Linked DNA regions of Homo sapiens: all the other regions are reported to be linked to region 1. The links are microRNA targets in miRTarBase. Many come from high-throughput screens and were not tested one by one. Region 1 holds a microRNA gene; each other region holds the end of a gene's coding sequence.
Evidence for each region. The annotated mature microRNA hsa-miR-7107-5p reads UCGGCCUGGGGAGGAGGAAGGG and lies in region 1 at 1,027-1,048, opposite strand. An mRNA with a match to its seed (bases 2 to 7 or 8) in the 3' UTR can be bound and repressed. Matches are read on the target gene's strand: a 7mer-m8 pairs with bases 2 to 8, a 7mer-A1 pairs with bases 2 to 7 and ends in A, and an 8mer does both.

Region 1 (3,000 bases):
TCAAATCATCCTCGGCTCTGGGAGCCAGTTCTGGAGCACAGCCCTGTGGGAATCCCCGGCCCAGCAGGAATGGCTAGAGCTGGGAGAGACTCCTGGCGCCACCTTGTGGCTGGTGACAGCACGGCCCGTGGGTGGAGCAGGGCCACCAGGCTCCTCAGAGGTTCCCTGGACTCACAGCTTCCATCCCAACCAACAGAGGCTCTAGGCACAGACAGCTTCCCAGGCCCCAAGCCAGAACCACGAGCCAGAGATCTGGGGCCGAGACCTGGGAAGCCTCAGGAGAGGCAGCAGTGGGGTGGAGGACCAGCGGGGTGGGGTGGGGGACAGCCCAGGACTCGCCAGTCCCCGGGGCCTCAGGAGGGCGTGCGTCGTGGGAGCACCTGCTGCTGGAAGTAAGTGAGACTGGATCTCCACCAGGGGCTGAGGCTGCTGCCTAGAGGGGGCCTCGGCGAGAGGTGAGAGGAGGAACCGGGGGACGTTTGAAGCGATGAGGCCTAAAGGGGGGTGGAGTGGGAAGAGGAGTGACTCGCTGGTTTTCCCCTCCTTTCTTTGGGGCAGGGCTCTCAGGACTTAGGTGACCTGCTCAGGGCAGCAAGAGGCCGGGATTATCCCAAGCTCTACCTGCTGCCCACCCCCTGCCCCATCCCTCCAACCCAGCACCCGGGACCAGCCAGACCAACCCCTTTGCCTCCCAGCCCCTCCTGGTCCGTACCCGCTTGCGTCCACTCAGCTCCTGGGGCTTCTCGTATTTCCGCTTCTTCCTCAGGTGCACGTCGTCAGACTTTCTGCGCAGAAGGCCGTCCGGCGGCACCTTCTTCGAGTGCTCATCCGACCTGCGCCGGGGCGCCTCCTCACACTCACTCCTCCGCTTGGCAGGTTCCTGCCCTTCCTTGTTGTCCCGGTTCATCTTCTGCTCCTTGAGCAGGGAGCCGGGCAGGTTGGAGGCGTACTTAAAGCCAGGGCCACGCTTTTGCTTGTAGGCCAAAAAGAGAGAATGAACAGACCAACTGTATACCTTTGGACTTGCCCTTCCTCCTCCCCAGGCCGACGGCAACCCACCTGCCTGAAACTCCTGGGACAGGCTGGTCCCGGCCAGGCCCAGGCCCGCCCCTCTCCCGACTGACCCTGGGACTTGGAGCCCGGCACTCACTTTCCCGGTCTTGCCGGCGTGGTTACACTTCGGACACTCCCAGCAGTTTGGAAGCTCGTCGTTGACCACACCCTCTGACTCCTTAATCTGCGGGGAACACCAGGACTCAGAAGAGGGACGGGCGGAGAAGATGGCCCACGGGCACAAGGCTCTGTGACGCCACGTCTTCCAGAAGCAGCAGCACCCCCTCCCCAACGTCACATCTATCCCGTTTCCAGGCAAAAGAAAACACAGCTGCAGAGGCTGGCAGAGACGGGCAGCTGTGGATCCAGGCCAGGGTTCAGAGGCTGAGCCCCTTTGCTTCTCTGGGACCCTGGGCAAGACACTCCGTCTCTGTGGGCTGGTGCCCTCGGCCATAAAAGTTAGTGTGCCCATCTCACTGGGGGGGTATGACCCAGGTAAAGCCATGAGCTCAGCGCCTGGCATGCAGAAAGGACTCTGCAGAGGACTCTACTGGGTGCTGGGGGAAGGAGTGTGGTGTGGGGCCTTGTTCTCCCAGAAGCCTGGAGCCACCTGGAGGCGCTTCCTCTGGCCCAGCTACAAACAAGCAGCCTGTGTTTGCCATCTGCTGAGGCTCTGGAAACCCTCTCTGGTTCTGACATCCTGGGAGGTGGGGGTGTGTTTATTCCTTTGATGACACTGGGTCTCTGAGGTACTCCAGGCCCTCCTTGCCCCGGGCTTATCCCTTGACACACAGGATCACCCAGACTCAGGGGTCCTCCAGGAATTCACTGCACGACCTGCATCCCACCATCTCACCAGCATCTCCAGCAACCCTACCTGCCCCAGAGCGTCAGCACCACCTGTCCCCACTGGGCCACTCACCTTAAGGCATCCAGGGTGGATGATTTCATTGCAGATGGAGCACTCCATGAGCATGAGGTTAAACTTGCCTTCCTCCTCTTCCACCGTGTCTTCCTTCCCCGCCTCGCCACACACAAGGCACACGGCGGTGTGGGGCAGCACTGGCTGAGGAGCCAGGGAGAACAAGACAAGTCATCAGGGGTGGGGAGCACGGACCCCCAGGGGGGCCAGTTCAAGGGCAATGAGCTGCTCCCCTTGGGCCTGCCAGGAGACCCCCGGAAAGTGGCCCAGGCACATTCGCTCACTCATTCATTGAAATACGTATCAGGCTACTACCTCCACATGCCAGATACTACTCTTAATTGCTGGGGATACAGCAAGGAACAAGACAGCTCAAAATCTCTGCCATCCAGAGCTTACATTTTAGTGGAGGGAGGCAGACAAAATGGACAGAGCATGTTAGAGACAGAGACATGGGGAAAAATTAGAGGGCTGGAGTGAGGGGCAGAAGGGGGGCTGATTTTAAATATGGAGGTCAGGGAAGGCCTCACATTCAGAAAAGCCCCAAAGGAGCAGGGGCGTGAGCGCAGCCCAGATCCATGCGGATGAGATGAAGCTGCATCTCACCAGTGGGTATTCAAGGCACAGACCATGGACTGCGGGCTCCCAAGACCTTTACAGAAAGGTTAGGAGGTCAGAACTGTCTTCAGAATAACAGACGTTATTTGCCTTTTGCACAGTATTGATATTTGTACTGGCGGGTGAAACTCCTGGCCCCTCAGCACCAGGCAAGGCAAGGCCCCCAGCTCACCAGCAGCCATGGGGTGACTCATGCCATACGCTTATTAAAAAGATCACCAGGCCGGGCGCGGTGGCTCACGCCTGTAATCCCAGCACTTTGGGAGGCCAAGGCGGGCGGATCACAAGGTCAGGAGATCGAGACCATCCCGGCTACCACGGTGAAACCCCGTCTCTACTAAAAATACAAAAAGAAATTAGCCGGGCGTGGTGGCGGGCGCCTGTAGTCCCAGCTACTCGGGAGACTG
Region 2 (3,344 bases), not on the chromosome of region 1:
CCCTTCCCAGCTGGCCCCTGGCCTTCCCCTGCCCTCCTCAGCCTCACTCAGTTTCTGCACTTTCCCTGTTCATTCCAGGAGCGCAGGGCCCTGGAACGCAAGGCCGCAGAGCTGGAGGAGGAGCTGAAGGTGGGGGCTGTGGGGGCTGTGGGCAGAGGGCCGAGGGTGGGTGGGGGTGCAACCCGCCAGGGCTGCCCAGCTGACCCTTGCCGTCCCCCAGGCCCTGTCTGACCTCCGCGCTGACAACCAGCGCCTCAAGGATGAGAATGCAGCGTTGATCCGCGTCATCAGCAAACTCTCCAAGTGACCCGGAGGGACTTTCCCGCACCCGTATTTATACAGCTGCTTCTGCCACACGCACCCCTTCCCCCGTGTGAACACGAGTGACAGGGCTCCGGGGGAAGTCTCAGAGAAGCCATAGCCCCCCTGGGACCTCCGGACTGGGAGGGGAGCAGAGTCCCCAGGAGCCGAGGGGGCCACCCGAGGCCAGGATGGAGGTGGGAGGCCGAGCCAAGCAGGGGGACGTTGCCAGAGGGGACCAGGGCCAGAGACGGGACCAGGAAGGAACTGAGGACCAAGAAGTGCAAGGATCAGTAGCCAGGACCAGAGTGGCCGCCTGGAGGTCCCCATCTCACGTGTGATGCCACCCCGTCACCCCTCCCCTCCTGAGCAGGGATCCAAGAATGTGCCAAGAGTCCCGCCAGCCTCAGCCAGGTGGGCCTGTATATAGGGTCCATGTGCAATAGGGAGGGACGTCTTCTATTTTTTGCTGCCCCCTCCCCGCCCACTGTCTGGGGCAGGGGGAGAAGGTATTTTCGAGATAAAGCACAGGCACCACAAATAAAAGTCGTGAAGTTGCCACTCAAGCTCTGTGTTCCCAGCCAGAGGGAGGGCACTGTTTCCTGCTCCTGCTGGGGGGCCGTGCGTGTCCATGACCAAACCACTGGGCCACTTGGGTGGGTGCCGGGGGATGGGCTGGTGCTTACTCACCTGTGTGGTGAAGGAGCTTCAGGATGAGCCCCCAGCGGGAGCGAAGGCTCCAAGACGGAGCCCGCGTGATCGCAGGCGGGGGGCTGAGGGGAAGCTGATGGGGCAGGAGGGATCAGCGGGCAAGACCTCTGGGGCCAAGGATGTGGAGCTGGGGAGTTTGGGTTTTGCCATCAGTGTCTTTGAAACAAATTTAGTCAATTGCCAACATTTAACATTTGGAGAAATTTGTGTGTAAAAATCTGGAATTTTGGCCGGGTGTGGTGGCTCACGCCTGTAATCCCAGCACTTTGGGAGGCCGAGGCGGGCAGATCATTTGAGGTCAGGAGTTCGAGACCAGCCTGGCCAACATGGTGAAACCCCTTCTTTACTAAAAATGCAAAAATTAGCAGGCGTGGTGGTAGGTGCCTGTAATCGCATCTACTCTACTTGGGAGGCTGAGGCAGGAGAATCGCTTGAACCTGGGAGGCAGAGGTTGCAGTGAGCCAAGATCGAGTCACTGCACTCCAGCCTGGGCAGCAGAGCGAGACTCCATCTCAAAAACAAACAAACAAACAAAAAACAAAAAGAATTTTGCCTTCTTTTGAAAGAACAGGAATCTGTGACAATATGAACTTTTCAGTCCTGCATAGCCACCGTTGACTAGAGCTGAGTAGGAGCCATCTTCTGAGATGAGGCATTCATTCAACAATTAGTATAACACCAACAGGAAGAACAGGACTGAGTGAGTACAGTGTGACTGATCATTACTGAACAAAACAAAGATCCAATACTTTTAGGAGGGGGGCATCCGATGTTAAAATAAATGTATTTCAAGGTGGCGGCGCTCTGGAGAAAAGAAAGGGGTTGGGAAGGTGGGTGCACGTGTGTGCACATGTGTTTTGAATAGAGTGGTCTAGGCAGGCCTCAGGGAAAAGCTGGTGCAGGCAGATGGTTGAAGGTGGTGGAGAGGGAGCTGTGTAGGTATTTGAGGGAAGGGTGCTCTGGATGATGGGAGCTCTGTGTGTGGAGACCCTGGGGAGGGAGCTGTGTAGGTATTTGAGGGATGATGGGAGCTGTGTGTGTGGAGGCCCTGGGGTAGGGCACCTGGTGTGCTGCAGGAAGCTGAGGAGCTGGAGAAAGCAGGGAATGAAGCTAGAGAGGTCACGGTGGCTGTGTGGAGACTTGGCCCTGGGAAGGGCTTGAGCTGTGAGATTGGAGCTCTGGGTGTCTTTTGGAGCATGGCCATGGCCTGACTTAGGTTTTAACAGGTCCCTCTGGCATGGAGAACAGGCTGGGGGTTGGTGGTGAGGATTGGGGGGACCAGCTAAGGGTCTACTGGTGAAATCCAAGCAAGAGAGAGGGTGGCTCTGGCTGGGGTGATGGGAGTGAAGATGGTGAGAGATGGTCAGGTTCTGAGAATATTGGAAGATACAGCTGCCAGGATGTTCAAACAAGCTGGCCTGTGACGGGGGTAGGGCTGAGGCCCGGCTGGCTCACTTGGGTCTCTTGTCGGGTTCCTGCAGGCATTTCAGTTTGCAGCCTAGGTGGCGAGAGCCACGGGGGCTTATTGGGGGGCGGGGGGCGGGTGCGGGAATGGAGCAAAGAGGTTTGGGGGAATTGCCTACCTTTCCTATTCCCCTACTAAGAATGAGGGGTGGGGCCCCGGGCAAGTGGTAGAGGGGCTGAGAGTATTCTGGGCAGAAGCAACCACATGAACCAAGCTTGGCAGCAGGAGGAGGGAAGCTGAGCCCCGTGGTCGGAGAAGCTGGTGAGCCGAGTGGGCAACCTGTGACTGCCAAGCTGGGGCCTGGTTTTATCCGGTGAGCCATAGGGAGCCAAGGGAAGTATGTGAATAGGATCTAGGGACGGGGCAGATAGGAGAAGGACTCTTGGAGATCCAAAGAGGAAGGAAGGAACCAGAAGGAACCAGGCAGGAGGTGGCAAAGTGGGGACTGAGAACTCCTGCCTGCCCCAAGGGCGGGGGGCGGGGTGGGGGTGGGGGGGCGTCTCTCTGATCCTTTCCCATCTTGGAGGGCGCCATCTGGTGGCCCAGGTTGGAACAACTCCGGGAGAGGCTTGAGGCCCAGAGGCCCAGAGGCCCTCAGTAATCTGGGGAAGGCAGAGCCAGGGGAGAAAGAGAAAGGGCCATTCTTCCCAAAGGCAGAGAATATCCAGTCTGGAAAACAGTGGGATCCAGAGAAAAGCAGACCTTACCAGCCACCTGGATAATGGGGAAAAGAAAGTTACAGGGCTTGCCAGAGGGAGAAGGAGCTAGTTCTTGAGGGATTAGGAAGTTTTCAGTTGGCTGCCATCTCCCAGAACAAAGAGTGGCCAGAAAGCTGTGGCATGCTTGGGAGGCAGCCAGTTCTACCTGG
Region 3 (3,344 bases), not on the chromosome of region 1:
CACTCCAGCCTGGCGACAGAGCAAGACTATCTCAAAAAAAAAGAAAAAAAGAGTGGATTTTATGGTGAATGAACTAATATTTCCAAAGAGGAAAGTGATAGAAAATAAAGATTTTAAACACTGAAATTCTCAAAATCATTTTAATCTAAAATGTGCAGGTTTTATTAATCCCTAAAGTGAAATGGTCTCATTATCAACCACTTTAGCTATATATATTTCTTTCAGCCATAGAACGTATTGTCATACAACAAATATTTATTTTAAAAGGTGATGATGAAGATGATGCAGAAGATGAAAATAACATTGATAACAGAACTAACTTCGATGGACCATCTGCAAAACGGCCAAAAACACCGTCTTAACAATAGCCTTCATGACATTTAAAAGATGGCTGTTGTATCCTTATTGTCACACTAGGACATTTAAGGAAGACTTATGCTCTAATTTGGAAAAAGCATTTGTGTTGTTCTCCTGGGACAATTTTGTCAAAGAGAAAACTGGTTTTTCTGTTTCTAGCAAAGATAGTAAAGGCTTAGAAATAAAATCTGTTTTCTTGAGAAATAAATTTCAGACCCTGGAAGGAAAATAGAACACTTCATAATGTATAAAATCCTCTAAGTTGGCAACTGAATTTTTATCATTGTTTTCTATTTTTAAAATAATCATTGATTTGTGTGATGTCTACATCTTTTAACTTCTGGTTCTGTTATAAAGAGTACATGTCACGGTTCATAGGCAGTAACATTTCAGAGAACTGACATGAACAAGTAGTGAAAATTGGGCATTAAATATAAAAATAACAGTTCTTCATAAACAGAAGGAAAATAAGGAAATAGAAATACCGACGAGAAAGGAGAGTCCTTGAAAGAGACCCAAGGAAACCCTGAATTCATACCCACGTCAAATATGCACATATCCTGAGATGATGCCACTTTGATGAATGTGCATTAGTCTGATTTATCATGTACCTTAAGAGAGCCAGATGGGGTATGTTTTTGTGCTGTGATATGGTATTTATACAGGTACAAATATAAGGCCTTAAGTAAACAATCTGCATTGATTACAATTTGGATATTTCCTCTCCTCCTGTAGCCATACTTTGATTTTGCTTTAAAAAGATTATTGAATCCTTTTAAAAATATATATTCCTAAAATATGTATGTGTGTGTGTTTCTTTTCTGCTCGTCAGTGGGACTAAGGCATTTTTATTTGCTGTGCATCCTTCCTGATTTAGATAGCTTCAATGCAAAGAAATCAAGTAGCATGTACCTAGTAAAATACAAATAGTCATGGAATTTTAGAGTTGGAAGTCACTTTACAAATTATGTGATTTATTTCAGAGATAAATCTAAGGATAAGTATTTGCCCTCAGATTACAGAGCTAACCATTGACAAACTGGGTTACATAAATAGCCTTTAGATTTTTTTTAAGCTGATAAAAGGTGAGAGAAGATCAACTTTTTTTTTCTTTTTTTTTTTTTTTTTGAGACAGAGTTTCACTCTTGTTGCCCAGGCCGGAGTGCAGTGGCACAATCTTGGCTCACTGCAACCTCTCCCTCCCGGATTCAAGCAATTCTTCTGCCTCAGCCTCCCAAGTAGCTGAAATTACAGGCATGTGCCACCACGCCCAGCTAATTTTGTATTTTTAGTGGAGATGGGGTTTCACCATGTTGGTCAGGCTGGTCTCGAACTCCTGACCTCAGGTGATTCACCCACCTTGGCTTCCCAAAGTGCTGGGATTACAGGCATGAGCCACCACGCCAGGTCAATTTTTTTTTTTTTCCCAGGGTCAACTTTTTTTTCAGATGGAGTCTTGCTCTGTTGCCCAGGCTGGAGTGCAATGGTGCGATCTGGGCACACTGCAACCTCCACCTCCCAGGTTCAAGCAATTGTCCTGCTTCAGCCTCCTGAGTAGCTGGGATTGTAGGTGCACACCACCACGCCCGACTAATTTTTATATTTTTAGTAGAGATGGGGTTTCACCATGTTGGTAAGGCTGGTCTCGAACTCCTGACCTCGTGACCCGCCCGCCTCAGCCTCCCAAAGTGCTGGGATTACAGGCGTGAGCCACCGTGCGTAGCCTTTTTTTCTTTCTTTCTTTTTTAAATTTTTATTTTTAGACAGGGTTTCACTCTGTCACCCAGGCTGGAGTGCAGTGGCACGATCGCGGCTCACTGTCACTGCAACCTCCGAGTCCCAGGCTTAGGTGATCTTCCCACCTCACCCTCTCAAATAGCTGGGACCACAGGCATGCACCAGCACACCTGGCTAATTTTTTTGTATTTGTAGAGATGGTTTCACCACGTTGCCCAGGCTGGTCTAGAACTCCTGGACTCAAGGGATCTGCCCACCTCTGCCTCCCAAAGTGCTGGGATTACAGGCGTGAACCACCATGCCCGGACTAATCAACTTTTATGAATCACTTTTATTGTGAAATAATTTAAGTGAAACTCAATTTACACACTTTTTCATATCCTTGAAATATTGTTTTAGTTGGAACAGCAAGCAGCCTTCCACTAAGTACTCTTGGGCAATCAAAACAGTGCCAACTAGAAAAAGTTATGGATGGTCAGAAATTATCTTTGTTTAGTTTATGTTGATGTTTCTAACATTTAACTTATTTATTATAGTACTGTTATCTCTATACAATCATTAAAGAAAAAACTGGTTGGGCACGGTGGCTGATGGCTGTATTCCCAGCACTTTGGGAGGCCGAGGTGGGCGGATCACCTGAGGTCGAGGGTTCGAGACCAGCCCAACCAACATGGAGCAACCCAGTCTCTACTAAAAATACAAAATTTGCCTGGTGTGGTGGCACATGCCTGTATTCCCAGCTACTTGGGAGGCTGAGGCAGGAGAATAGCTTGAAACTGGGAGGCAGAAGTTGCAGTGAGCCAGTGGTGCCATTGCACACCAGACTGGGCAACAAGAGCGAAACTCCATCTCAAAAAAGAAAAGAAAAAAACTTACCTGTATATACTGAAAAGAGAGCACATTGTTAAACTGATATTTGAACCTTTTCTCTGAACATTTTATGTTTCCTCCTTTGGAAAATGTGGTTATAAAGAAGAAATTTCAAGATAATATTTGTGTTTGTGTCCCAGTGTTTTTAGGTTCTGATTTATAAGATTGGTCTTTTAATTAATTTTAATACTGATTTCAATTCTAATACTGTCTTCTTCATAAGTAAGCCATGTGTTTGACAAAGATGGACCAGTATAGAAGAAATGCTTTGCCAAGTTGCCTAATCTGCTGCTGCTCTTGGGTCTCACTGTCACTCAGGCTGGAGTACAGTGGCGCAATCAGCTCACTGCAGCCTGGAATTCCTGGGCTCAGGTGATCCT

Region 2: miRTarBase lists PPP1R12C as a target of hsa-miR-7107-5p. Seed matches in the 3' UTR shown: 7mer-A1 at 503-509.
Region 3: the mRNA of GON7 is a reported target of hsa-miR-7107-5p. The part of its 3' UTR that is shown has no 7-base or 8-base seed match.

The regions. Positions count from the first base shown.
Region 1 is chr12:121,443,300-121,446,299 of GRCh38, forward strand. MIR7107 (microRNA 7107) reads right to left here and starts at 1,053; the gene lies at 974-1,053. KDM2B (lysine demethylase 2B) reads right to left here. Exons shown (of 23, transcript NM_032590.5): 14 at 1,976-2,119; 15 at 1,151-1,237; 16 at 713-973; 17 at 381-494.
Region 2 is chr19:55,088,435-55,091,778 of GRCh38, reverse strand. It overlaps PPP1R12C (protein phosphatase 1 regulatory subunit 12C), which reads left to right. Exons shown (of 22, transcript NM_017607.4): 21 at 79-129; 22 at 221-861. The coding sequence ends at 307. Among named protein-coding and RNA genes, the nearest start is that of EPS8L1, 14 kb to the right of the region's middle. RefSeq lists an enhancer at 2,884-3,178.
Region 3 is chr14:93,200,706-93,204,049 of GRCh38, reverse strand. GON7 (GON7 subunit of KEOPS complex) reads left to right here. Exons shown (of 2, transcript NM_032490.5): 2 at 268-1,156. The coding sequence ends at 362. Among named protein-coding and RNA genes, the nearest start is that of GON7, 4.7 kb to the left of the region's middle.